Regions from separate parts of the Homo sapiens genome. Here all the other regions are reported to be linked to region 6. Evidence: microRNA targets listed by miRTarBase, many of them from high-throughput screens and not tested one by one. Region 6 holds a microRNA gene; each other region holds the end of a gene's coding sequence.
Evidence for each region. The annotated mature microRNA hsa-miR-519d-3p reads CAAAGUGCCUCCCUUUAGAGUG and lies in region 6 at 2,436-2,457, shown strand. An mRNA with a match to its seed (bases 2 to 7 or 8) in the 3' UTR can be bound and repressed. Matches are read on the target gene's strand: a 7mer-m8 pairs with bases 2 to 8, a 7mer-A1 pairs with bases 2 to 7 and ends in A, and an 8mer does both.

Region 1: miRTarBase lists NFIB as a target of hsa-miR-519d-3p. The part of its 3' UTR that is shown has no 7-base or 8-base seed match.
Region 2: the mRNA of AFF1 is a reported target of hsa-miR-519d-3p. Seed matches in the 3' UTR shown: 7mer-m8 at 1,210-1,216 and 7mer-A1 at 870-876.
Region 3: miRTarBase lists ZNF786 as a target of hsa-miR-519d-3p. The part of its 3' UTR that is shown has no 7-base or 8-base seed match.
Region 4: miRTarBase lists TPRG1L as a target of hsa-miR-519d-3p. Seed matches in the 3' UTR shown: 8mer at 2,457-2,464.
Region 5: miRTarBase lists CHSY1 as a target of hsa-miR-519d-3p. Seed matches in the 3' UTR shown: 7mer-A1 at 2,673-2,679.
Region 7: the mRNA of GBP3 is a reported target of hsa-miR-519d-3p. Seed matches in the 3' UTR shown: 8mer at 1,519-1,526.

The regions. Positions count from the first base shown.
Region 1 is chr9:14,085,047-14,089,490 of GRCh38, forward strand. It overlaps NFIB (nuclear factor I B), which reads right to left. Exons shown (of 11, transcript NM_001190737.2): 11 at 1-3,280. The coding sequence ends at 3,263. Among named protein-coding and RNA genes, the nearest start is that of LINC00583, 160 kb to the left of the region's middle.
Region 2 is chr4:87,135,250-87,139,504 of GRCh38, reverse strand. It overlaps AFF1 (ALF transcription elongation factor 1), which reads right to left. Exons shown (of 21, transcript NM_001166693.3): 21 at 1-3,925. The coding sequence ends at 3,804. Among named protein-coding and RNA genes, the nearest start is that of KLHL8, 83 kb to the left of the region's middle.
Region 3 is chr7:149,067,913-149,070,912 of GRCh38, reverse strand. It overlaps ZNF786 (zinc finger protein 786), which reads left to right. Exons shown (of 4, transcript NM_152411.4): 4 at 1-1,272. The coding sequence ends at 490. Among named protein-coding and RNA genes, the nearest start is that of ZNF786, 21 kb to the left of the region's middle.
Region 4 is chr1:3,627,439-3,631,882 of GRCh38, reverse strand. It overlaps TPRG1L (tumor protein p63 regulated 1 like), which reads right to left. Exons shown (of 5, transcript NM_182752.4): 4 at 4,230-4,383; 5 at 1,756-3,474. The coding sequence ends at 3,280. WRAP73 (WD repeat containing, antisense to TP73) reads left to right here. Exons shown (of 12, transcript NM_017818.4): 11 at 226-417; 12 at 766-1,113. The coding sequence ends at 908. Among named protein-coding and RNA genes, the nearest start is that of TPRG1L, 4.6 kb to the right of the region's middle.
Region 5 is chr15:101,174,062-101,177,707 of GRCh38, forward strand. CHSY1 (chondroitin sulfate synthase 1) reads right to left here. Exons shown (of 3, transcript NM_014918.5): 3 at 1,666-3,646. The coding sequence ends at 3,327. Among named protein-coding and RNA genes, the nearest start is that of LRRK1-AS1, 24 kb to the left of the region's middle. RefSeq lists an enhancer at 250-1,136.
Region 6 is chr19:53,710,965-53,715,408 of GRCh38, forward strand. It overlaps MIR519D (microRNA 519d), which reads left to right and starts at 2,383; the gene lies at 2,383-2,470. It overlaps MIR517A (microRNA 517a), which reads left to right and starts at 1,304; the gene lies at 1,304-1,390. It overlaps MIR524 (microRNA 524), which reads left to right and starts at 38; the gene lies at 38-124.
Region 7 is chr1:89,005,252-89,008,507 of GRCh38, reverse strand. It overlaps GBP3 (guanylate binding protein 3), which reads left to right. Exons shown (of 11, transcript NM_018284.3): 11 at 656-1,828. The coding sequence ends at 784. Among named protein-coding and RNA genes, the nearest start is that of RBMXL1, 14 kb to the right of the region's middle.

The DNA.
Region 1 (4,444 bases), not on the chromosome of region 6:
ATGAAGAGCTTGGCTGAGATGATCTGTTTGCTACCAGGGCGAGTATCACAGAAATGATTGGACTTACTTTTGAACTTGCACTGCTAGGATCCCGCTGTGCTGTTCAGCATTTGGGCTATCAAACTGAATGGGCTAATCAAATACAATTCTCCAGCCCATAAGCATTGTTCTAAAGTATTCATTATTAAATGATATGCTGTGAGAACAATTGACAGTTTATTTTATTAGGCCATGGCCTAGGGGAAGGGGGCCAGGGGACTCCTTAAGACAGCCTACCATGTGTCACCAATTCTGAAAGATTTTCCTTCTAGTAATGAATACACTCAATGGGACTGGGCGGTGAGGGAAAGGCAAAATAAAACCAGCCTCCATTCAGCCTCTAGCCCTCAGGGGAAACGAAATCAAATATATAGTTAAGGTACCATTCCTTAAAAAAATCCCATCAGCATCTAATGGGTTTAATTCATCCACAGGAAGATTAATTGCTTAAAATTCTATATTTCCCTTCTGCTCTGGTTCTCAGTTTTAAAAGGGGAGATAAAATGAAAACAGGATTTACTTTTTTGTTCCTTAAAAATTGAACTTTGATTTTAATCTATCAGTCCAAATACATTCAACAATAGCAACCCTCTGTTCAATCTTCTGGATATTAAAAAAAAATCCAAGTGCACTGCCATCCATTTGAAGTAGTAAGTCACAGGTAAATCATATCCTATCATTAATGAAATGAAATGGGGACGAAAAGTGGCAGAAAAGGAATACGGGAGACTCCCTCCAACAGGTCTAATGTGTTTTCTAGGAGAAAGAATATTCATGTGTTAAACTCTCAAAAGTGTTAAACATCCAACATCCCCTATGTGGACATTTCAACAAATATTTTTGCCAAATATGAGACAGGCTCACTCTCCACTGTGGATCTGGAACTTTCAAGAAAAACTATCACCAAGCCAAGTCTGCCTTTTTAAGCCAAGTCTGCCTCCAGGAGAATTTGTTGTGTTTGCTTGTTCTTACTATTGTGTTGTTATGAAAACCAGTAATGAGTTCAGCTTGCAACCCAGGTGGGAAGTTAGAGAGGGGAACCTGTGTAAGTTGAAGTTTGTCACAGTAGGCAGAACAGTCGCTTTGCAGCCCAGGCCCATCTCAGGGTGCACTGCTTCACAGCTACACTGCAAAGTGTTAAAAATCCTCCCACCCACCCCAGAATATATATATATGTATATTAAAAAAAATCCCCTGTCCATCTCTCAGTACACAAAAGGACCTCATCACACTGCAAAAATAGCAGTACCCACTTTGGTCAATTAAAACAAACAAACAAACAAAAAAGCATACATTATTTTTTTTTTAAATCTGTGTACTTACCTATAATAACCAATACAGCTAAAAGCACTACCTACATAGGCAAAACTTGGTATTGCATAATTCGTATAAATTTGAAACCCCTCCCCCCCAAATATTAATTGGAAGATGAAAAACATGAAAGGTTAATAGAAAAAAACACCAAAATACTGAAAATATTGCTGGTCGATTACAATTTTTAAGCGGCAACTATACACAGCCATGATATGCTTTATAAATGTGAGATAAAGGTATAACTGTCTAAAAAATCCATGATGTCACACATTTTTCTTCGTCTGGAGTACAAAATATTTTGTCATAAAAATGGTAAAGATTTAAAATGATAATAAATGCAGCAAAACAAGTGTAGTGATGTCACTTTGTTGTATTTTTTTGTTTTTTTTTTTTTGTTTTTTGTTTTTTAGATTTCAAGGCAAGGCACGTAATGTGGACATTATATCTTCGTGCAAATTAGGATTACTGGAAAGAGTATTTTTAATTAAAATTTTAAGAGACATAGAGGCAAAATGTGTCTGCCCATGCACACTATGGATCTGTCAATACAAGAAATTTGTTGAACAAGGCTAATGTCTGAAAGCACCATGCAAGTTTTCAGCACCCTGATTACATTTGTTTTCTCAAGAGTGCGTTTTTATATCCTACACCCTGGCGTTCCCAGTTTGTAAACTGTAAGCTTTACCCTTGTGACATGGATTTGCCTGCCTCTTTGTCTCTATAATGCAGATTTTATAGAACCTTTTGTACACCCTATGGGTTCTTGATGCAACCAGTAATTTTAAATAAATAAATTCTACCTCCAAGGAGGCTGCAGCTAAACCAACATAAGTGCTGTGTTTTCATTAATTTTATTTTTCTCAAGCACATGATTTGTCTTGATTTAATGCCTTTTTAATGCCCTCAAAAACTGAGGGGAAAATAAATTCGTTCAAAATTATTTTAAATTCTTTTTAATCCCCTCAATTTAGAGTCCAAGGGCTGAAGGACTTATAATCATGATTCCCCTTTAGATATAAATTTATAAATTGCACTTGCCTCTGTTAAGTGTTTCTTTTGTGGGGAAAATATTATATTAATTTTTACTGTTGCATGCAGAGAGAACACTTCACCTACATAGAGGCATTTCTTCCATAGAGCCTTTGTGTTCAAACTGTTTTTTTCCTTTTTTCTTTTTTTCCTTTTTTTTTCATTTTTTCTTTTTTTAAGATTTCAAACTGGGTTACACACTGGAAAAGGCTGGGTTAAGGGCCGAAATTTAATAAATCTGTACTGATAACTAAAGGCTACAGAGATTTCATATATTTTTTTTAACTTTTAGAAATCAGAGTGCTTATAAAATGGCTGGCTCATGGCTCTGTCACCCAGCACCTCTGACGCCGCCTCCTAGCCTTCGTTGGTGAGATAACCAGGAATAGTGATTCCATGCGTAAACAACAAGAATACTAAACCAATAAAACTAGCTTATCATGCAAATATTAAGGCATCTAGAAAGTCAGTTAAAATATATTGTCATAGAGACAGAACATCTATTTCCCAGCGGACTTCATGTAACAAAGGCTACGTTGCAGGGGCTGCGATCTACCATCAGTGAAATATCATCGACCCTTTTTATGTCATTACAGTTTCAACCTTAAGGGAATTAGTGATTGTAAGTGCTGCAATTGCTGGTCTATTATCTTCTTTCTTCAGTTTCTTTCCTTTCTGCCTTTGTGTTGTTTTGTCCAGTCTTCCTCTTTTCCTTTTTTTTTATTTAAAAAAAAAATTTCTTAAACTATTGTTGTGTTTCTTTTTCCCTCAGTTGCTTGTTTCTGCTTGAAGGAAAGGTTCTCCAATTATGTTCAAACCGTAATTTTGGACATTGGCCGGTAAGATGGGTGTCCTATTTGACACTTGGAAAGGAACCAAGCTAGCCCAGGTACCAGGACTGTTGAGAGGAGAGAGGCAGCAGGGAGGGAAGAAAAAAGAAAAAAATACAATGTTAAAATCTACAACAATATGAGAAATATAAATTCCAGATGCATCAAATTATTGCTATCCCTATTTTCAAAATTACAGTCTAATATGAGATAAATGTGCCAAATTATACATGTTACACCTATCTAAACTCTATAGTCTATTTTTTAAATGAAAATTAAGACTAAAGTGAGGCAGAAAAATCCAGAGTAAGATATATAAACAATTATTGAATTCTAACCGATTGAGGATATTCTAAAATATTTTACATTAATCAATATAAATGCAATATCATTCTTTTTTGTACAGGAAAAAAAAGAAAAAGAAAAGCAGCAATCTGTTGGTACCAATATACTTTGCCAGTTACATTCTAATCTTATTTTACCTTTAATTCACAAGCAATTCAGTGGTCAGATGGGTTTCAATTTCTTACCTGCCTATTGGGTTGAATACAATTGAAAAGTACGGTGAAAGATATTTCTTTTCTCCTTACAACAGGAAAAAAAACTACATGTTTAAGGTAGGCCCATGCATAACATACAATTTGAAATGCCCAATTATCAAACATACCTTAATCAGAGTTTTTTAGTAAAGACCGAACAAATAAGAATCATAGAACCAAAATGGAACACAGCTTTTTTTGTTCTCTACAGAATACCCATCGTGAGGAAAAACATTTACAGGAGGCCACAAAGGTCTCTGCTTGCACTGATTAGTTCTATAGCTCTCCAGCAGTTTTCTTATTCTAACCCTCTTTAACTTACTTTTAGAGAGAGCCACAGCTTTTCCTTCCAATTCATGGTTCCCTACATTGGCTTGCAACAGAAGCCTGAGCATTTCCTGCTCCTCCCCATCAGTAATGATACCACATTTGAGCTGCTCTGCACTTGAGGAGTTTGGAGTGATAGATGGCGGGTTGGGGGTTGGGGGTGTTGGAGGCAGTAAATGATAAGATTCCAGCCTTACTCTCATCAGTTCAACTTTCGCCTATGCTGAATTACAGGCTGTTAAAAAAAAAAAAAAAAGACTGGAAAACAATTCTCTAATTGCTACTAGCATAATCTCCCTTTAAAAAGTATCATATGGAGGATAAAAAAAATCAGATCTACATATCATGAAACAACTCTACAGCACA
Region 2 (4,255 bases), not on the chromosome of region 6:
GCAAGATTTAAATACTGCTAATCAGTGGCAAAGAGTGTAAACAGATGAAATGGCAAAGTTTTAAAAGTTTTTTTGTAGTGTTTGGGAAAATAAAGAATCTGTGGTAGGAAGCAAGCAGGTTTAAGTACAAGAAAACAAAACAAAACAAAACAAAACAAAAAACAAAAAAACCCGAAAGCCCAGCCTCAAGCCTCAACCTACTTTAAGATGCACAAATACAACTCAAACTTCATAAAGCAGAGGAGTAAAAGGTGCAAGAGCCATGTAGCATCCCTGAAGCCATGGCGAAACAAACACAGCGGTATTTAAAAACTGGGTTCACTCAAAGGCACAATTCAATCAACCTCTTTTTCTCTATTTAAGTGTATATATTTATATCCCTTTGTATATCAGAGATAAGTTTTGTTAATTGTAGAGGACACAATGGCTTTCTTCTTGCTTCTAAAAATTACTGAAGATGAATCATAATAAAACAGTAAGCTCCTGATGCTAGTAACATTAATGTGTAAGATACCAAATAAGGCAAGTTTTCAGCCAGAAAGGGGTAGGGGGTTTTAGCTTTCTAAACATCCTGAGACCTGAAATTAAAGGATACAGGACAAGGGAGATAAGTGCGGTCCAATCTGTGTAAGGGAAATAGCTACATATTTTGGTCAAAACAGATAATATGAAGGTCTTTTTGTTACAAAATATTAGATACTTTTCCCATTCAGTATTGTAATCAAATCATAATATCAGACAGTCAAATTCTCCTCCTATTGTGATTCTATTTCTGATAAATGCTTGCTGGGCCCTCCCACTCCTCACCACTGCTACTAGGTGGCCAATGTTTTCACAATCCGAACCCAGTATAATTTGATAAATTTTAGTAAAGTGTTTTTTCATTATTTAGCAGGGCTCTTAAATTCAATAATTCACAGAAAGGACAGAAACATTAAACACTTTAAAAAATAAAACAGTGTTCTTCCATTTCCTACTAAAGACACACACACACACACACACACACACACACACCTTGTAGTGCCAAAGGCAAGATTTACACTCTATTTTCACTCCTTAAGATGCTTTGCATTTGTCTTACTCTGAAGTGTGTACTATTATTGTTATAAGAACTTTCCATACTCTAAGGCTTAATTTTATAATCTAGCCCTTTCAAATGATCTACCTCAGTACAGATTTTGCCTTTGGGAATTGTAAGCATGCAGTGAAAAAGTGCAAATCATTTTAAAAATCCTTCAGACCTCTATATACAACCGTAACAGCAAAAAGACCCTATGAACGTTAAGGATTCATCAGCCACTACCTTTCACATACTCTATTAAAAAGGTTACCATTAGTTACTCTCCTTTAGGTACAATGCAATAAGGATCAGAAATATCCAATGACCAAAGTAGTACAAATTGATCTATGCACATTTGTTACTTTTTCAAGGGACAAATAAAATCTTTATATCAAGTTCAGAGAAAAAAAAAAAAACCCACAAAGAGTAAGGCCACTGAAAAAGCAATCTGTTTTAGAGCTGGCTGAGAAATCTACCTGGAAATGTCTTCAGTCAAGGGAGCACTGTGGCTTGCCAACAGAACACGCACATGCTCTGGCACAATCTGCATAGAACCTGCCATAAAGAACACAACCCTTCACAATTGACAGGTGGCTTGTTCTAGGGAATGATAGGACAAAAGGGGAGGGGATGGCTAAGGGAGTAAGGAAAAAAGAAAGATGTTAAATAACATCTTCAATATCGAAATAAAGCCTGATTCTGGTGCCTTGTCCTTTACATATAACAGATGGACACACAATGCTACACACACACCAAACCTACCAGGCAATTACTGTTCATTTAACACAGGTTTTTAAAACTAGTAGTTTAAAAAGGACCAGGGCTTTGCTTTATAACATGAATAAATGAAACCGGTCATCAGGAATCACACATCAAGGTCTTATGCTCAGATATGACTACAGCTGTCATTCTCTGGCTTTCACCTAAACATGAGGGACCAGACCTCTGACTTAGTGACAACCAAAGAACAGTCTGGAGAAGAAACTGAAGGAACAGCCTCACACAGACCACTCACACTGTGAGAGATAAGCATCGCTCCCATCCCTCGACACATCCCTTTGTGTATTTACAAACTACCAAGAGAGTTCCTGCATTCATCATAGGGATCTTAGATGTCTTCATTATAAATAAATATGGTTCTCCCTCCTCCACTAATAGGAAAATGTGAAACATGCTTGGTAGGAAACATGTACAGGGGCAGAATGGGACAAAGGCGGAGAAAAAGTTATAGAGATGACACTCCTCAATTGTAGTAAGTGTGCAAATTCTACTTCTAAAAGGGATAAAAAAGAATTGGCTTTTAAAAACACTGCACTCAAAGTAATGTTTCCAATAATAACCTTTAAAGTTTCAATGAAAAAGAAAAATCTGTGCTTATGGGCACATGGGATTTCTGATTGTGTTACTTCATTTTAGGTCATTCAAAATGGACTTGGTTTAATGCATACACTATGGCAATAACTTACGGAGGGCCACAGTTCCTCCTCAACCAAATCAAATCTAGCTGAGAACACTCTGGAGTGAAGGCATGTGGTGATGAGTTTTTCAAAAGTCTAATCAACCACCCCAAATCTCTACATCCTCTCAGGGAGTTAACTTCCCCTAGACAATCAAGGACTCTGAAAGTCTAGTTTTGCTATAAATATAAAATATTTGTAGCAGAAAAATATAGCCTCTCTAAGAAGCAGATTTCATGTTTCTTGTTCACTGACGAAACTCTGAGTTGGCTGGACAACATGAGTTACCACATAACTGTAGACCACAGATCAGCACCTCAAATTCCAGCTCTACTTAAACAAAACTTTAAAAGCACTTTAGCCATCTGGTCAGGTATAAATGTTGGTTCCCTTCTTCCCCAAGGGAGGAAATTCAGAATAGAGTCAACAGTGACTGCCCTGTTAGAGAGTCCCTTTCGCTGAAGCAGGGGTGGGAAATGGCAGGGGTAGGAAATGGCAGCGCCAAGTCCTCCTGTGCAGACCTCGAGGTGGCACCCCATGTGCTGTGGCTCCTCCTCACCGCTCCGACGTGGGCTGACTTTCAGCACAGTAATGAGAAGTCAGAGCTGGGGTCAATGTGCAGCGCTCTAGGCAATGGGGAGATTGGGGGCGGCAGGAGCGGGGGTTGCCTTCAATTTTATAAATTACAACAATACTTGGTATTATCAAGCCACTGTTCATTGGCAGAAAGTGGGGCACAGTGGAGTCCTTCATTACTTATGGTTTACAGATGGCCATTAGAAGTTACTAAACAAATATTTCTCCCAAAACTCAAAAGAAAAAAAATCATCCACAAAACCCTTTACCAAAAGTCATTGTTAAAAAAAAAAATTTCCTTCTGGGAATGGACTAGCGTGGCTACTGAGATGACGTGAAATTCACTTTCAGAGTTGAAACTGTTTCTCCTCATTTCATTTGCAACTTGTATCCTGCTGGTTTAAAAAAAAAATAGAAATGTTTCTAGACCATTCATACACCCATTTAAGCTAAATTGCACTTCTGTCCTTTAGTTAGGAAGGGCAAGATCATCTCTGGGGCCAGCCTCCTCATCTCTGCTTCTGCATAACCACAGTGTCCAACCAATGATCACACTGTTGTTGAGAGTTTAAGTGGACAAATGTCCTGGCCATCTCGTGGTGCTTCTTTTTTAGAGTTTGGTGTCCTGATGAAACAAATGTCTGGACTGTTTTTGAGGCTTCCAATGTGCAAAAATAGTTCCCAAGGCATTGAATCAACCTGGGGCTCCATTAAGGTGTTTTGGTTAATTCTTGTAGCTGCTGAAAACCCTGTCGTGTATAGTGCACCAGGTCCACCAAACTGCTGTTGAGGGCCAAGGTGCACACATTTGTGCTGAGCCGAGCAAAGAATTCTGCAAAAAAAACAAAACAAAACAAAAACAAGTAAATACACAAGCACACACAAAAATTAAAATGGAAACAAAAATTCAAGGTTCCAGAAGGTAGGTCCCCACAATATTCTGCACTTAATCACATCAAAAAAATCACAATCTACTGTAATTGCTTGCTAATTCTCCACTAGACTACCAACCAGGTTTGCTTTAGAGCTGAATCCATAATGCTTAGCACAATGGCTGGCACTTGGAAAACACCAAATTTATACCTTTGCCTCAAAGGATGCATTAATGAAAAAAAAAAGTTAAAAGCATTATCAGTTTGATAAGACAGATAAGGCCCTAAGA
Region 3 (3,000 bases), not on the chromosome of region 6:
CTTCCAGTGTCCGGAGTGCGACAAGCGCTATCGCGTGAAGGCCGACATGAAGGCCCACCAGCTGCTGCACAGCGGGGAGATGCCTTTCTCCTGTGAGTGCGGCAAGGGCTTTGTGAAACACTCAAAGCTCATCGAGCACATCAGAACGCACACGGGAGAGAAGCCTTTTCAGTGTCCCAAGTGTGACAAGAGTTTCCGCCTGAAGGCGCAGCTGCTCAGCCATCAGGGCCTGCACACAGGGGAGAGGCCTTTTCACTGCCCTGAGTGTGACAAGAACTTCCGGGAAAGGGGACACATGCTGAGGCACCAGCGCATCCACAGGCCCGAGAGGCCCTTTGCCTGTGGCGATTGTGGGAAGGGCTTCATTTACAAGTCTAAGCTTGCGGAGCACATCAGAGTACACACAAAATCCTGTCCTGCTCCAAATGAACTGGACATTAAGAAAAGGCTCAGCCAACTGTTTGCAATGATAGAGGCCGATTGGAGTTGAGGCAGAGTGGGACATCCAAAGCGTTGAGCAGGATTGGTATTGCCCAGGAATCCACAGCAACAGTAGCCAGACCCGCTGGTAGACGGGTTTTAGGAGCAGGTATCCTTCTTTGAGCAAGAGTGTCATGCAAGTTAGGAATATGAAGAACCACAAAGGATTTTCTCTTCAGAAGCATCACCAATTATATTTCTTTCTTTTTTTTTTTTTTTTCCAAGATGGAGTTTTGCTCTGTCACCCAGGCTGGAGTGCAGTGGCGTGATCCCAGCTATATTGGAAAAGACAGCATTATAAAACAAGGACATAATTTTATGAAAAAGGAGGCATCTGCAAACGAAAACAATTTCTACGAGGTTATATGTGATTGTTAACATTTTTAAGAAAAGGTGCACACAGAAATCCAGATAAGATGTGATTACCTTTGTGCATTTGTATAAAAATATATGTGTGTAATTATAAGGAAGTTCTGACATTTTAAAAAGTAATTGTTATAAAAGTAAATTTAGGCCAGGCACAGTGGTTCATGCCTGTAATCCCAGCACTTGGGAGGCCGTGGCAGGAGGATCACGAGCCAAGGAGTTTGAGACCAGCTTGGGCAACATGGCAAAACCCTGTCTCTACTAAAAATACAAAAATTAGCCAGGCATGGTGGTACACACCAGTAGTCCCAGCTACTCCTGAAGCTGAGGTGGGAGGATCGCCTGAGCCCAGGGAGGTCAAGGCTGCAGTGAGCAATGATGGTGCCACTGCACTCCAGTATGGATGACATAGTATGACACTGTCTCAAAAAAAAAAAAAAAAAAATTTGGGCCAGGGGTGGTGGCTCACGCCTGTAATCCCAGCACTTTGGGAGGCTGAGGCGGGTGGATCACAAGGTCAGGAGATCGAGACCATCCTGGCAAACACAGTGAAACCCTGTCTCTACTAAAAATACAAAAAAAAAAAAAAAATTAGCCGGGTGTGGTGGCAGGCACCTGTAGTCCCAGGAGGCTGAGGCAGGAGAATGGTGTGAGCCCAGGAGGCGGAGCTTGCAGTGAGCCAAGATCAAGCCACTGCACTCCAGCCTGGGTGACAGAGCGAGACTCCGTCTCAAAAAAAAAAAAAAAACAAATTTAGTATCTCCCAAAGGAAGCTTGGCAAGTCCTTTTCATTCTCTTTAGAATTTATAGAATATAGCCTGGCGTGGTGGCTCATACCTATAATCCCATTACTTTGGGAGGTCAAGGCAGGAGGATCACTTGAGGTCAGGAGTTCAAGACCAGACTGGCCAACATGGTGAAACACCATCTCTACCAAAAAGTACAAAAATTAGCCGGGCATGGTGGCATGCACCTGTAGTCTTGGCTACGCCGGAGGCTGAGGCAGGAGAATCGCTTGAACCCCAGAGGTGGAGGTTGCATTGAGCTGGGATTGCACCACTGCATTCCAACTTGGGAGACAGAGCAAGACTCCATCTCAAAAAAATTATAGAATATATAATTAATATATAAAGATACAGAATAATATATAATTATAAATTCCTTTTTTTTTTTCTTTGAGATGGAGTCTTGCTCTGTCGCCCAGGCTGGGGTGCAGTGGCATGATCTCGGCTCACCGCAAGCTCCACCTTCCGGGTTCATGCCATTCTCCTGCCTCAGGCTCCCAAGTAGCTGGGACCACAGGCGCCCGCCACCACGCCCAGCTAATTTTTTGTATTTTTAGTAGAGACAGAGTTTCACCGTGTTAGCCAGGATGGTCTCGATCTCTTGACCTCGTGATCCGCCCGCCTCAGCCTCCCAAAGTGCTGGGATTACAGGCATGAGCCACGGTGCCGGCCTTTCTTTTCTTTTTTTTTTTTTTTTTGGAGTCTCTGTCAGCCAGCCTGGAGTACAGTGCCATGATCTTAGCTCGCTGTATCCTCCACCTCCCAAGCTCAAGTGATCCTTCTTTCTCAACCTCCTGAGTAGCTGGGACTAAAGGCGCACGCCATCACGTGCCACCATGCCTATTTTTGTATTTTTAGTAGAGACTAAAAATACAAAAAATATAAAATGTGGGCCAGGCTGGTCTTGAACTCCTGACCTCAGGTGATCTACCCACCTCAGCCTCCCAAAGTGCTGGGATTATAGGTGTGAGCCACCGTGCCCGGCCTATACTTCGCCATTTGTCTCTTAACACGGGTGCCCAAGAAGCTGCTGCTTGGGGGGCTGTATTCAATTAACACTTTTAATGTTAACAGGTGTGGACCATCAAGAGATTGTCTCTCCCTGGCTGCCGAATTCTCATTCTTAGAGAGGCAATTTGTTAATTGCTGAACCATCACCTGACATTTCTAGTGGGTCGGGAGAGAGCCCTCTGCTGCCCTGTTGATGCCTAACTACCTGTAACAATCTGATTATTGTAAGTTTTCCTGTATCCAGTATCACCTCCAATATTTATCAAGGAGTTGTGTGAAATACCACCTCACAACCAGATGAAGAATTTTATCACCACCTCCTCCAATTCCTCATGAGGGAGAAGTAGGAATTGCTCTG
Region 4 (4,444 bases), not on the chromosome of region 6:
CAAAGAAAGAAACACATTTGGGCCCCTTACAGCCCGTGATGGCCACCCTGGCCCTGGCCAGGAGCCCTACAGGGCCCAACTGAACCCAGACTGCAGGGTGCAGCCGCCCCACCCCACCGGTTCTTCCCCTCCCCTCCTGTGGTGTCAACAGCAGAGCAGAGGGGCAGGGCCAACACAGAGGAGCCAGGCAGGGATGACACCGGTGCCCTGTCCTTCCTTCCTCAGACAACATTCCCAATGCCGTCTGGGTCTGGGACATTCAGAAGCTGAGGCTGTTCGCGGTGCTCGAGCAGCTGTCCCCAGTGCGCGCATTTCAGTGGGACCCGCAGCAGCCGCGGCTGGCCATCTGCACGGGAGGCAGCAGGCTCTACCTGTGGTCCCCAGCGGGCTGCATGTCGGTGCAGGTGCCTGGGGAAGGTAAGCACATCCCCGAGGCCACGGACGTGGCAGCCTTGCTGTGTGCAGTCTGGCATCACACGGGCTGAACTGTTGAAGCCCAGCTGCTGTCTCCGGCAGCACTCCAGGGAAACTGCCCTCAGAGTCTTTGCGTAAACCTCAAGACGGACACACAGGGGACCCGCTGCCCTCAGCTTTATGGGCTAGAAGCAGCCTCTCCCTGACTTGAGGCAGCTCTGGGGCTCCACCCTGGCTCTGCCTATGTGGGTCACTCCAGGCACTGTGCTGGCCTGCAGGACAAGGGGGTGCCCATCCCCCAGAATCTGGGCCTCCCCTGCTGTAATCCTCTGGCCACCTGTCTCTCTCTAGGCGACTTTGCAGTGCTCTCTCTGTGCTGGCATTTAAGCGGAGACTCGATGGCCCTCCTCAGCAAGGATCACTTCTGCCTCTGCTTCCTGGAGACAGAGGCAGTGGTCGGCACAGCCTGCAGACAGCTGGGCGGCCACACGTAGCAGCGGTGCACTAACGTGTGCAGAAACAGGGCTACTCTGTGTTTCCAGTGTGGGAAAAAACACAGCTTCACCAGGAGGTTCTCCACTGTGGTGGTCTGGATTCAGTGATTGATTCTATTTTTCTATAGCAAAGCATTTTTGTAAATATGTATGGTATAAAACTGTAGTTTTATTATTTAAAATAAATACTTGCTGATTTATACAACTACTTCTCTTCTTGAAACGTTTAGTCACAGGCAGGTTTTCTAGGTTCGAGGTTCTGGTCAGTCTTAGGGAAGATGGATAGCCCTACAGTAACTGAGCCCCGGGCCACTAGCTCCCGCCAGACACCCGGCCTGCTCTGGGTTCTCTGTTTGGATGTGTTAGGACAACGAGGGGGCATCTCTGTGGGGCACATCCAGCCTCCCCACAGTGGGTCTGAAGTGTGGGCAGGGAGCCCTGGCACCTGAGAGCAGCGCCACCCCCAGGTCCAGTCCCCTCGGGATGGGAGCTGCAGGTCCCCGACCAGCTGAGTCAGTTCCTCAGGAAGTCTCATGTCTACTCTGGTTTCGGAACCAGTGTGCGTGGGTCTCCACCCTGGCTATTTGCAGGAAGTGCCTAGAACCACCCAGAACCATTCCATCAATCTCTCCAGCTGGTGCTCGGCAGGCAGCCAGACTTGGTTGGCACCACAGGTGGGGGGATCAGGGTTGCAAACCTAGGTTGTTGCATATCGTGATCTCTTTCTGCAGAGAACCATACTCGGCACTGCTGTGACAGGCAGTCCGCATGGTACAGGCAGAACAGGCCCACAGGTGCAGAGCCGGCAGAGATGGGGCAGGCTTTCAAAGAGGGAAGAGACACTTTCTTGGTTGTTGCACCTACTTTAATGACAACTTCAAAAAAGGAACAACATCCATCCACTTCTTAATGTCTTTATGAACACAGAGGCTAGAGTCCCCAGCCAGCTTCTGAGGCAGCCCTGCACATCCTGCAGGTGGCCACACTCAACCCATGCCACACCGTTTGCTTAAAGCTACAAGTCCTAGAGCTGAAGAACTGGCAAGCCAGTGCGTGAAGCTTATCGACAGCGCTTCCAGCCACACGAGCAAGCTGCGCAGATACAGGGAGGTGCGTGGGTCCCTGTGGGGAAATCCTCCAGGCACATCGAAGCCCGGGCATGTTTAGTGTGAGACTTGGACAAAGTCCTCTGTCTACACCAGAGTGGTAGGAACCAAGGCAGGCATCAGCTGCGTCATAAGGATCTGGTAGATGGAGTCTCGCTCTGTCGCCCGGGCTGGAGTGCAATAAGTGGTGCCATCTCAGCTCACTGCAACCTCCGCCTCCTGGGCTCAAGCGATCCTCCTGGCTCAGCCTCTCAAGTAGCTGGGACCACAGATGTGCCACCACGCCTGGCTGCTTTTTGTCTGTTTGGTAGAGACGGGTTTCACCATGTTGCCCAGGCTGCTCTGCAACTTCTGAGCTAGAGCGATTTGTCTGCCTGAGCCTCCCAAAATGCTGGGATTACAGGCATGAGCCACCATGCTGGCCTGATACGGTTCCTTGTTTTAAAGTGCATTATTCAACAAGCAAAGTACCCGATTCCCTTTAACTATGAATACAATACAAACTTCGAATCCAGAGAGGTGTAAAACTTGTGTGCAAAGAACTGTCAAGGTGACTTTCTCAAATTAATAAATTGTCTTACAATGATTTTCTGTAAAGCTTTCTGGGTCTGGGAAACAGACCTGAAGTATTAACACAACTTGGGTTAATTGTGGAAAAAGTGTCACTTCAGGTCACCCATTTCCAAAAGAGCAGCGGGTCACCAAGGGGCCCACAGCCACAGACCGGTCTCAGTCAACCGGTCTGCTGGCTGCTTTTGGATGAGCTGAAGTAAAAATGGATTACATTTTAAAATACAAAATTGGACACCAGGTGTAAACATACTTGCAACTGCAGGCACTCGAGATACCAGGTGCCTCCCTGTTTTCAGCAACCTAGGCAAGCGCTAAGGGGTGTGCTATGGGTCCCGCGTGCTGGGGCAGCTGGGGTGGGAAAAACCACGAGAAGCCAAGTAGATACTCAAGGAAAACACCAGAACTGAAGTTACAGAGAATGAAATACCAGCAGCACAGGGACAGCGAGAGTCTTTTGGCTTTTGTCTGTAGCTTATATGAGCAGAGTCCAATATCCAATTAAATAGATAGAATTCACTTTACGATTCTAATTGTGCTGAGATCCCTAAAGGTGAAAGATCCCCATCCTTCCAGCAGCAGCAGGGCAGCATGAAGACTGCCAGGCCTCCCAGTCCCCCAGCCCCCACATCCCTTGGCCTTCTGGGGAGGGGGAGGAGCTCCCAGAAGGGGGAGGAGCTCCCAGAACGCAGCGGCTAAAAGCCTATTTTGCCCCTGGTCATGGAGTAGCCCAGTTTCGCCTCGTTGTTAATGAAGGACATGAGTCCCACGTAGGTCTCGATGAGCAGGGGGCGCTCCAGGATCAGCACGCCATTCGCCTGTCCTGGCAAAGGGCTTTCTTTTTGGGCTTTTTTGACAGCTTGGATTAACAGAGCCTTGAAGCTTTCCAACTTTAAAGAGAGAAAAACATGGAGCTTTAACTGTCAGGCAAGATAAGAATGTCTATTACTTGAAAAAATTAGCATTCTGAGACACTTAAATCCCTCCAAATGCCGCCTATCTCTTCGTCCCTTCACTTGAAAGGGCTGCCTCTGCCACATCCTGGGGGTCTCTCAACTCTCGTCCCCACGGAGCTCTCTAGGTGTGTGGAAATCTTGCCACCATGCTCTCCTGTGGCCAATGGCAGCCAGCACCTGCAGAACCCTTCCTGTATACAGGGCTGAGTGGCTTTGCCGTCACCCAACCTACCAGGTCAGTAACCAGGCCGAGGCACACAGCTGGGGAAGTGCAGGACCCCCGCCAGGCTCTGGGCTCTGGGCTCTGCTCTAACCCCAGCCCCGAGGCCTCCTCTCCTGGTGCGCATCCGCACTGGTCATCTGGCACGGCTGGGTCTGCTGCCACTCTCTGAAGCCCAGCTGGGGCCCTTCCCCACCCAGATCACCATCAGGAGGCCACATTATGGAGCTATGCTAACCAGCAGCCACTGGCCACATGCGGCTACTTTAACATAAATTAACCAGAATTTCTGACAACTTAGGGAATCAACTCTAAAATGAGAGCTTCCTCTCTCATTTCTAGCCACGTCTCAAGTGCTCGGCAGCTCCGCGTGGCCGCCGGACAGTGCAGACCTGAAGTGTCTCCGTGACTGCGGGGGGTGTTTCCATCACTGCGGGGGGCGCGGCTATTTATGTGCCTGTCTTCTTACCTGACACAGAGATGCTGTCTTCTCATCTGCGCCAGCCATCGGGTGTTCTGTGAAAGTGGCATAGGGCACGTTGGTAGACCAGGGATTCCATCTGTTTATGAAGGAAGGACGACTTTGCTTGTCCCACTGAATTCGAATCCCAAAACCTTCTCGCCTGAAAAGTCAGAAGAAATAGCCAGACTTAGCATGGCAGGCCACAGTGCTCTCATGGACAA
Region 5 (3,646 bases), not on the chromosome of region 6:
AAATGTTGTCTATGCATCTATGCCTACAGCTCTGCCTTCCTGGCCAGGACAAACTTGGTGGCCGTTTGTGGGAAGTCCTGAGCTGGTGCTGGGAGGAAGGAGGGAGGTTCCCCTTCATGCTTTTGTGATTGTACCCTTCTCCTCTTCTTCAGCCATATTACACGGCACGATTTTAACATACTGTCCACAGGAGTCACAAAGCAGGAAGCCACAGTGGAAGGGTTAAGCAGGAAGCCTCCAGAGATTCAGGGGGAAGGGATCAGTTCCAGGCCCAGCAGGGGCTGCAGGTCTCAGCCTGTGCACTGGCAGGAGTACTCAGTGCGGAGGATGGGAGGGCACGCCTTTGGCAGGAGGCACATGTGGAGAGGGCGCTCGAGGGAGTAGGGCAGTGTGGTTCCCAACACGCCAGGGGACGGGCGGGAACAAGAGCCCCAGGCCTCCTTGAGGGGCTCTAGTGAGACAGATACTGCCACATGGTCACAGAAGGAGGCCCAGCTGTGTCACATCCCACAGAAGGGTCCAGGGTGGCAGCGGAGCGGACAGTGGGGTGTTTTAGCTGCGTCCTGGGAAACAGTCAGGTTGTCCAGAGGGAGGGAAAGTGTGTGGCAGGGCCGCAGACACGGATGCCCCCACGACTTGGGGCGCAGCGGCTGGAGGAGGTGCCCTGTGGAACGGGGGATGATAGACGCAGGGACAGCAGCCAGGCTGAGGAGGGCCCGGGTGCCTGTGGAACTGCCGAGTCCACCCTCTGGGCAAAAGAACAGCACCAGGTGACGGAGGAGAGTGGAACCTGGAGGCCAGCACGCGGAGTGCAGACACGCCACTGCCAGGGCGGGGAGCTAGAGGGGTCCGGCCGCGTTTCTGGAAACGGAGCCTGGAAGGGAGGCAGTACTTCCATGAACACCAACACTGCTATCAGGAAGAGGGACAGACCTGATCAGGAGTGGGAGCAGGGAAGGAAATGGCAGGTTTCACCAAGGGTCATTGAAATTCTGGACGCACACTCAAACGTGTCACTCACACCACGTCCCAAATCCCCCCAGTTTGTCACTATGGTAAATAGGAAAGCGTTTATAATACTTTGTCATGAAGATGCATATTATGCTCTTCCTTATCGAAGAATAAAAATGTCTCTGCTTTTTCTCCAAGAAAAAACTAAACACTCCCACAGAGTAAATGGCAATTAGGCTGAATTACGGCAATTCTTGCTGTGAGCGCAATGTCATTATGCTGGGACTTAACTGTCATTACACTGTAAATATACCTATCCCGGGGGCAATGCTTGCCCACACGAGCTTGCTACCTTGGCATCAAAGATCTCACTTCTTTTGACTCTTGGGTTATATTGCAACTGTGCTGATTTATCCTCTAACTAGATTGATCCTGGAACCCCAAGTTGTGCCACAGCCCCACGCCAGGCAGTTGTTAAAATGCAGGTTCTATGGGGCCTGGGAGGGGACATTTCTATCCAGGAGCCAGACGCGGCCCAGGCCCGGTTTGAAGACCTTTGTTTTGAAGAACGTGGGGTCAGCGAGTTGATGAGGAACAAGGACGAGCTCATCTGAGGAAAAAACGGAAGGAAGCACTTGAAACCGGGTTTCGTTTCACTCCCAAGCTGCGGTCCACAGAAGCATTTCCCTCAAATAACTTGAAAAACTTTATGAATCGTGTTTAAGTTTTTTACTCTCCAAATGTAATACAATTCTTCAGCTAAAACAGGAATAATGAGACAAAATGGTTCGAAAAGTACAATAGAAAAATATTGTTCACTGGTTTATTTTTCCAAATGAGCATCAGGCTATTTACAAATACGCAGCCCTCCAATGACGTGTATTAAAATGGCAAGTCTATCACTGTTTGAAATCTAAATGAAAACAAATTTATTAAGGCACATTTGATCTGAGAATTTAACTTTCTGGTATAATGACAGATTCATTTCACTTTTGTCCCCAAAACACATGAGCACCAAAATTGTCAAAGAACACTTAATATTTAGTAAAACAGTAAGGAATATAAAAATTAAGGAGGGGAAAAAGCGTTTCCAAAAGGAAATCTTTGGAGATCGGTTTACTGCAAATAAAACAGACTAAACACACTCCCGATACACATAAATAATACTAACTAACAGGTACTCAAGAAATGGCAGAGCTCTGAACAACAGATATTAAATAAATTAAAGGTATTTCAGATACAAAGGATAAAACAAAACAGTAATGAAAGAATGAAAACCATCTCCACCCACATAACACAGACAGGATGAAAGGAACAAAACCAAATACATTTTTCCCCAACGTTTTGATTAGGGTGTATGTGTGTATGTTTCAGTCTGTGTACATCAGATTTATTGTAATAATTCATCTTTGTCATTCTAAACATTAATATTTTACCCTTTAAAGAGAAGGGTCAAGAAGAGAAAATGCCAAATCCTTCTTGAAATTTAATGCCAGGTCTATTTAGGCCGAATGAACTACCACGAGAACAGCCACATACCTCACTGTGCCTTCTTCACGCCCCTTGCTTTAAAACCTACGTGGCCAGCTGGGCTTGCATGGTGAAACCCCGTCTCTACTAAAAATACAAAAAAACTAGCTGGGCGTGGTGGTGTGTGCCTGTAATCCCAGCTACTCGGGAGGCAAAGGCAGGGGAATTGCTTGAACCAGGGAAGTGGAGGTTAAAGTGAGCCAAGATTGCGCCACTGCATTCCAGCCTGGGTAACAGAGTGAGACTCCGTCTCAAAAAAAGAACAAAACAAAACAAACAAAAAACCTACGTGGCCATGCTGAGCAGAGTACCATGAGAGGAAATGATCAACTCTGGAAAGCTCTCCTGAAGACAATGATGAAACAGCTATTATCACATTTCCTTATCTTACAACTGGAACATGAAATGGCTTTAAAACAATTGTAAAAAAAAAAAACAAAACACAAAAGGTAGAATCTGTGGAATGTTAACAATCACAACAGAACATTTACCAGAGTTACAGTGTTTTGTTACAATAATACTTTGCAGGAATGTTCACGTTTTCTGCCATAGGACTGGAGCAAAGGGTCTCAAAAGAAAACATTTTTTTAAAAAAGTTTTGTTCATCAGGTACATTTCAAGTCAAAGTTAAGCAGGTCTGCTACATAATGTTCAGCAAGAAGATGTGTTCAAAGGCAAACACTGATCACCTTCTTGTTCAGAAAGCTCAATCTTAAAGGAGTCCTATGTAAGAAAACCACTTGTAAAATATATCCTTGTATACGGACTTCAAAAACTGATCATACAAAAAATTTTTGAAAAATAAATTAGATAATTAAAAACGTCTTTTCCAGCAAAGCTGGACATTAGGCTGTCCTCACTGAGCCATTATTATTGCTGCTTTTACTGTAACTTGGATCATTTTTTTCCAGCCACATCTCAGCCAGCTGCTGGGTGGACCCATAGGTCGATGCTTTGGACCCCAAGCACATTTTGTACTGTTTGGGGTCAAGATTGGGATCACAAAAGACAGGATGGTGGACGTGGACTACTCCTACTTCCTGGCTCCTAAACGTCTTCAAACCTGCCTGGACAACCTTGTTGAAAAGGTCCACATCCTCCAGCCCCCAGCCTTGGATGGAAACATCAAAGCCACCCACTCGGACAAGATCTCCCTTATAAATAC
Region 6 (4,444 bases):
ATTCCAACAAAAAACCCAGAGTTCTGGAGCAAGAAGATCTCATGCTGTGACCCTACAAAGGGAAGCACTTTCTCTTGTCCAAAGGAAAAGAAGGCGCTTCCCTTTGGAGTGTTACGGTTTGAGAAAAGCAGCGTTGAAGTTGATGCTTATCTCGGTAATACATTTGTAGAGCATGCTTATCATGAGGCTTGGACGATGGCGGGGTTCTGTTTTGGTTTTGCTTTTTTATTCTAAGACAGGATCTCTGTTGCCCAGGCTGGAGTGCGGTGGCACATCCAACCTAGGTCTTTTGGATTCAAATGGTTTTTTTAGCGGACAGAGTCTCTCTATCACCCAGGCTGAAGTGCAGTGGTGTGATCTCGGCTCACTGCAACCTCCACCTCCCAGGTTCAAGCGAGTCTCCTGCCTCAGCTTCCCAAGTAGGTGAGATTACAGGTGCCCATCACCACACCTGGATAATATTTTCATTTTTTAAAATTCATTTATTTATGTTTTTGAGATGGAGTCTCACTGTTACCCAGGCTGGAGGGCCGAGGCGTGATCTCTGCTCAGTGCAACCTCTGCCTCCCGGATTCAAGCAATTCTTCTACCTCAGCCTCCTGAGTAGCTAGAATTACGGGAGCCCACCACCACACCTGGCTACTTTTTGTTTTTTGTTTTTTGTTTTTTTTTTAGTAGAGATGGGATTTCACCATGTTTGCCAGGCTGGTCTCAAACCCCTGACCTCAAGTTAGCCACCGGCCTCTGCCTCCCAAAGTGCTGGGATTACAGGCATGAGCCACCACGCCTGGCCTAATTTTTATATTTTCAGCAGAGGCGGGGTTTCACCATGTTGGCCAGGCTGGTTGCGAACTCCTGACCTCAGGTGATCTGCCCACCTCAGCCTCCCAAAGTGCTAAGATTACAGGCGTGAGCCACCACACATGGCCATTAACACCTTTTAGTCCATGGAAATTATTCTGGCACTGATTTATAAAGCCTCATGTGGGGTCAGGTAGAGTCAAAGGGGGACCTCAGTGTCCCTTGCAGATGGGATGTGCTCAGCAAGAGCACGGAGGTGGAGTGCATGGGGTTTGAGTTTTCACTGGGGAAATGAAACCAACATCTTGGGTGCATGACCAGGTCATATATGCAGTCATATATGCAATATGCATGGTGGTGGGTGCCTCTAATCCCAGCTACTCAGGAGGCTGACGCAGAAGAATCGCTTGAACCCAGGAGGCAGAAGTTGCCATGAGCCGAGATCCCACCACCGCATCCAGCCTGGGCGGCAGAGTGAGACTCCGTGTCAAAAAAAAGAAGATCTCAGGCAGTGACCCTCTAGATGGAAGCACTGTCTGTTGTATAAAAGAAAAGATCGTGCATCCCTTTAGAGTGTTACTGTTTGAGACAAGCAACGTTGAAGATGCTGCTGATCTTGGTAATACATTTGCAGAGCGTGCTTATCATCAGACTTGCATGATGTCGGGGTTCTGTTTGTGATTTGAAATTTTTCCAAGACAGGCTTTCTATTGCCCAGGCGTGGGTGGATAGCACCTTCCACCAAGATTTCTTGGGCTTAAGTGGTCCTCTTTTTATTTTTTGATTTTTTGAGACACACTCTTGTTTCGTTGGGAGTGCAGTAGCAGGATCTCTGCTCACCGGAAACTCCACCTCTCGGGTTCCAGTGATTCTCCCACCTCAGCCTGCCGAATTGTTGGGAATTCAGGCATCAGGCACCCACCATCGTGTCCTGCACTCTTGCTGCCCATCCTGGAGAGCACTGGCATGATCTAGGCTCACTGCAACCTCCGCCTCCTGGGTTCGAGTGATGCTTCTGCCTCAGCCTCCCAGGTAGTTGGGATTACAGGCACCTACTGCCCCACCCAGCTAATTTTTATGTTTTTAGTAGAGACGGGTTTCACCATGTTGGCCAGGCTAGTCTTGAACTCCCGCTTTCAGGTGATCCACTAGCCTGTGGTCTATCCTGGAGGATGTTTGTGTGTGTGACAATGTATATTCTTCAACATCTTAGACTCCATTTTGGATGCTCCCATCGGAACTATGTATCCCTGTGCTGGAACTCAAGTGAACACTCAGCTCAAAGTCCATTGCTGTTCTCTAGAAATCCAGCCCAGTTCTCTTGGTTAAATATAAGGTATGTGTAGTAGGCATTGCTTTTTCTCTTTAGAGGCAAAACTCAGGAGGGTTGCCCCTTGATGAACAAGGCTAACCTGCAGAGCCTTTGAAGAAAGGAACTGGAGATGGTCCTTTTAGGGGTTTATGTTCTGGATTCTAGAAAACAGGCAAACAGGGCCAATAAATGCATCTTTATTGTTGTGGCCATTTTAACCTGGTCAAGGAAGATTTCAACAAAAAACCCAGAGTGCTGGAGCAAGAAGATCCCATGCTGTGACCCTCCAAAGGGAAGCGCTTTCTGTTTGTTTTCTCTTAAACAAAGTGCCTCCCTTTAGAGTGTTACCGTTTGGGAAAAGCCACGTTGAAGATGATGCTGATCTTGGTAATACATTTGCAGACCATGCTTGTAATCAGACTTGGATGATGTTGGGAGTCTGTTTTTTTGTTTGTTTGTTTGGTTGGTTTTTTTGTTTGTTAGGTTTTTGTTTTTTGTTTTGGTGTGTGTGTTTTGTTTTGTGTTTTTTTTTTTTTCTAAGACAAGGTCTCTGTTGCCCAGGAGAGACTAGAGAAGCACTTTTTAAGATAGGCCTGTTGGGCTCAGATGGTCCTTTTATGGGATACAGTCTTGCTCTGTGACCCAGACTGGAGTGCAGTGGCGCGATCTTGGCTCAATGCAACCTCCACCTCCCGGGTTCGAGTGATTCTCCTGCCTCAGCTTCCTGGGTAGCTGGGATTACAGATGCCTGACATCACACTCGGCTAATATTTGTATTTTTCTTTTTTATTCATTCATTCATTTTTGAGATGGAGTGTTGCTGTCACCCAGCCTGGAGGGCAGTGGCATGATCCCGGCTGACTCCAACCTCTGCCTCTCAGGTTCAAGCCATTCTCCTGCCTCAGTCTCCTGAGTAGGTGGAATTACAGGCACCCACCACTACAACCAGCTACTTTTTGATTTTGATTTTTTTTTTTTTTTTTTTTTTTTAGTAAAGGTGGGGTTTCACCATGTTGGCCAGGCTAGTCTCAAACCCCTGACCTCAAGTGAGCCGCTGGCCTCGGCCTCCCAAAGTGCTGAGAATACAGGCGTGAGCCACCGGGCACAGCCATCAGCACCTTTTACTTTATGGAAATTTTTCTGGCACTGGTATAGAACCTCACGTGGGGTCAGGTGGAGTTGAGGGGACCTCAGTGTCCCTGCAGATGGGATGAGCAAGAGCACGGAGGTGGAGTGCATGGGGCTTCAGTGTTTATTGGGGAAATGAAGCTGAAATCTGGGTGCATGACCAGGAGATAAATGCATGAGACGGCGGTCTCACTATGCTGCCCTGGCTGAAGTGGGCTTAGATCCTCCTGCCTCTGCCCCTCCCCAGTCCTTGGTAGATGGGACCACATGTGAATATTAACCCCCCATGCACAGACAAGAAGAAAGTAAGGACTGTTCTTTGGTTCATACCTGACCCCAGTTAAACTTGTATTTTAGATAAACAATGTATTTGAGATGTACTTGAACAACAAACGATTTGCTGTTCAGGTGTGGGCATCTTTGTTTTGTTTTTTTTTTTCCTAATTTTAAATATGGGACTAGTGTGCATATGGTGGCTCTTGTCTGTAATTCCTGCACTTTGTGAGGCTGAGACAGGAGGATCACCTGAGATCAGTTGTTCGAGACCAGCCTGGCCAACATGAAGCCAGGAGGCTGAGCTTTCAGTGAGCTGAAATCTTCTGCTGCACTCCACCCTGGGCAACAGAGTGAGACTCAGTCTCAAGAAAGTAAAAAATAGGCCGGGCGCGGTGGCGCATGCCTGTAATCCCAGCACTTTGGGAGGCCGAGACGGGAGGATCACCTGAGGTCAGGAGTTCAAGACCAACAGGGCCAACATGGCAAAGCCTCGTCTCTACTAAAAATACAAAAATTAGCTGGGTGCAATGGTGCACATCTGTAATTCCAGCTACTCCGGAGGCTGAGGCAGGAGAATCCCTTGAACCCAGGAGGAGGAGATTTCAGTGAGCTGAAATCAAGCCATGGCATTCCAGCCTGGGCCAGAGAGCAACATTCCGTCTCAAAAATAAATGAATAAATAAAATAAATAAAAATAAATAGATAAATATGGGACATCATAAATTTGGGTGTCACCTTTGTGTAGCAGCCAGCGTAATCTCTGTCATTCCAATTTTTTTTTATGTGAACTGCCAAAGCAAGCACTTGTGTAGGAATTTTTCTTCCTGTGAGCATACAATATATGGAACTTTCTTTGACACAGGGTCTCAGAAATATATGGTATATATTTCGTTATATATATACTTATATATAATATAATCATATACA
Region 7 (3,256 bases), not on the chromosome of region 6:
CCATCTAGTATGACTTTGGCTCTAAGAGAACTTTTATGAGCAGAAGGACTCCCTAACCCTCACACCTGTAGGGCAGTCTACCACTCCTGCCTGTTTTCTGTGCCCTACTCACAGTTTGTGTTGAGTTGGGAGCTATGTGCAGAAATTCTATATGGTAAGTCTGGCACTCGGATTTCCTTGCCTATCTTCTGCTACCCCTGCCAACAGGGAGTAGAGACTTAGATCAAATTTCCTGATCTAAGATTCATATACCTAATCAGATTTTGAGAGTAACTTATCTCTGTATTATGTGTATATAATAATAATATGTGTGTAGGTAGGTGTGTTAAAAAGTCTATAATGCATAGGGAAGATTTGAAGTCAAATATATTGTTAAGATTTCCCACAAAGGTTTTGTATAATTAATAGGGGGAAAAAAGCAAGACCTTCATCAATAGAGCAGAAGGCATACGCTGAAACTCTTTTGGCTATAGAAAACCCAGGAGAAATAATCACACAGCCCAAATGCCCAGAAAAACTATAATTAAAATCAAGGGTAGAGAAAATTTCAAGAAAAAAACTAAGTACTAAATAAATCAATGCATGTGGAAACTAGATAGCTTACAGAGATTTACTTAATGCTACACTTATTTAGCCTCCATTTGTCCCTTTTTAGGAACAGGCCCGAGTACTAAAGGAGAGATGCCAAGGTGAAAGTACCCAACTTCAAAATGAGATACAAAAGCTACAGAAGACCCTGAAAAAAAAAACCAAGAGATATATGTCGCATAAGCTAAAGATCTAAACAACAGAGCTTTTCTGTCATCCTAACCCAAGGCATAACTGAAACAATTTTAGAATTTGGAACAAGTGTCACTATATTTGATAATAATTAGATCTTGCATCATAACACTAAAAGTTTACAAGAACATGCAGTTCAATGATCAAAATCATGTTTTTTCCTTAAAAAGATTGTAAATTGTGCAACAAAGATGCATTTACCTCTGTACCAACAGAGGAGGGATCATGAGTTGCCACCACTCAGAAGTTTATTCTTCCAGACGACCAGTGGATACTGAGGAAAGTCTTAGGTAAAAATCTTGGGACATATTTGGGCACTGGTTTGGCCAAGTGTACAATGGGTCCCAATATCAGAAACAACCATCCTAGCTTCCTAGGGAAGACAGTGTACAGTTCTCCATTATATCAAGGCTACAAGGTCTATGAGCAATAATGTGATTTCTGGACATTGCCCATGGATAATTCTCACTGATGGATCTCAAGCTAAAGCAAACCATCTTATACAGAGATCTAGAATCTTATATTTTCCATAGGAAGGTAAAGAAATCATTAGCAAGAGTAGGAATTGAATCATAAACAAATTGGCTAATGAAGAAATCTTTTCTTTCTTGTTCAATTCATCTAGATTATAACCTTAATGTGACACCTGAGACCTTTAGACAGTTGACCCTGAATTAAATAGTCACATGGTAACAATTATGCACTGTGTAATTTTAGTAATGTATAACATGCAATGATGCACTTTAACTGAAGATAGAGACTATGTTAGAAAATTGAACTAATTTAATTATTTGATTGTTTTAATCCTAAAGCATAAGTTAGTCTTTTCCTGATTCTTAAAGGTCATACTTGAAATCCTGCCAATTTTCCCCAAAGGGAATATGGAATTTTTTTGACTTTCTTTTGAGCAATAAAATAATTGTCTTGCCATTACTTAGTATATGTAGACTTCATCCCAATTGTCAAACATCCTAGGTAAGTGGTTGACATTTCTTACAGCAATTACAGATTATTTTTGAACTAGAAATAAACTAAACTAGAAATAAAATAAGTTTCACTAGTTTTTTTATTTCCATTTTTTTTTTTTTAGTTTTTCACCAAATAATAAGGTTTGAGTCTTTATAGCAGTGGTTGGCTAACTTTTCTGTAAAATACCAGATAGTGATTATTTATGGCTTTGCAGGTCAACTGTCTCAACTACTAAACTCTGCATACAGTACAAATGCAGCCATAGACAATACATAAGTAAATGGGTGGGGCTATGTGCCAATAACACTTAATTTTCAAAACCAGGTGGCACACACAAGCTATAGTTTGCAGACCTTTGTTTATAGAAACATTGGTCAAAGTTTCATTTTATATCTGCCTTATTTTACTTACATTTATAAGAATCATAAGGATTAGATTGTATATGTTAGAATCTTGAAATAATTATGTAGTGTTTCAAAATATTACACGATGAATCCCAAGAGGACCCACAGACCCTCTGAAGGAGGCAGACTGCTCCTGCAGGACCCAGGAAACACTCCAAATATTCTGACTGCCCCAACTGCAGAAGTGGGAAAGGGAGACCCTCCTCTCTGGAACACACACCCCCACTGGAGAAGCTGAAGGTTTGTGTGCAGGAGGAGTTTCCGACTTTACCTGAAGCTGAGTCAAGTTAGAGAGCCGAGCAAAATACAGGGGTAGAGGAAGCAGTTGGAAGGCCCTGGGAGCTCACTGTGTCCCCAGGCAGGCCATTCCTGCCTGGCACCACAGGGATCTATCGGGAGGTCAGCCAGAGGAGCAACAGGTAAAACTCCACAGAAAGAAGAAATTCTCCAACCAAACTTTGTAACAATTTGAATGGGGCGAGAAGCCTCCTGCCAGAACTCGGGGAGGGCACAAATCCAGCATGCAAACTTCACAGGCTGGTGAAGAACTAAAGTCCTTTTCTTTTTGGCTGAGCAGAAAGCCTCAGCCAAATTTTAAGCCCGCCCCTCTTGCCCTCTGCCTGGAAACAGACTCAGAGCTGTTGGCAGGGAGAAGGGCACAGTGGGAGTGAGACCGGCCTTCCAGTTTGCATCGGAGCTGGGTGAGGCCTGTGACTGCCAGCTTCTCCCACTCCCCTGACAACCTGCATGACTCAGGAGAGGCAGCCATAATCCTCCTAGGTACACAACTCCAGTGACCTGGGAATCTCACCCCCATCCCCCACAGCAGCCATAGCAAGATCCAGCCATGGAGAGTCTGAGCTCAGACACTCCTAGCCCCGCCCTGACCTGATGGTCCTTCTCCATCCACCCTGGTAGCTGAAGACAAAGGTCATTTAATCTTGGGAGTTCTAGGACCCTGCCCACCACCAGTCCCTCTCCCACTGATACTTTCTGGAAAGTGCCACCTCCTTTCAGGAGGCCAACCAGCACAAAAATAGAGCATTAAACCACCAAAACCAAGGACCCTCATGAAGTCCATTTCACCCTCCACCACCTCCACT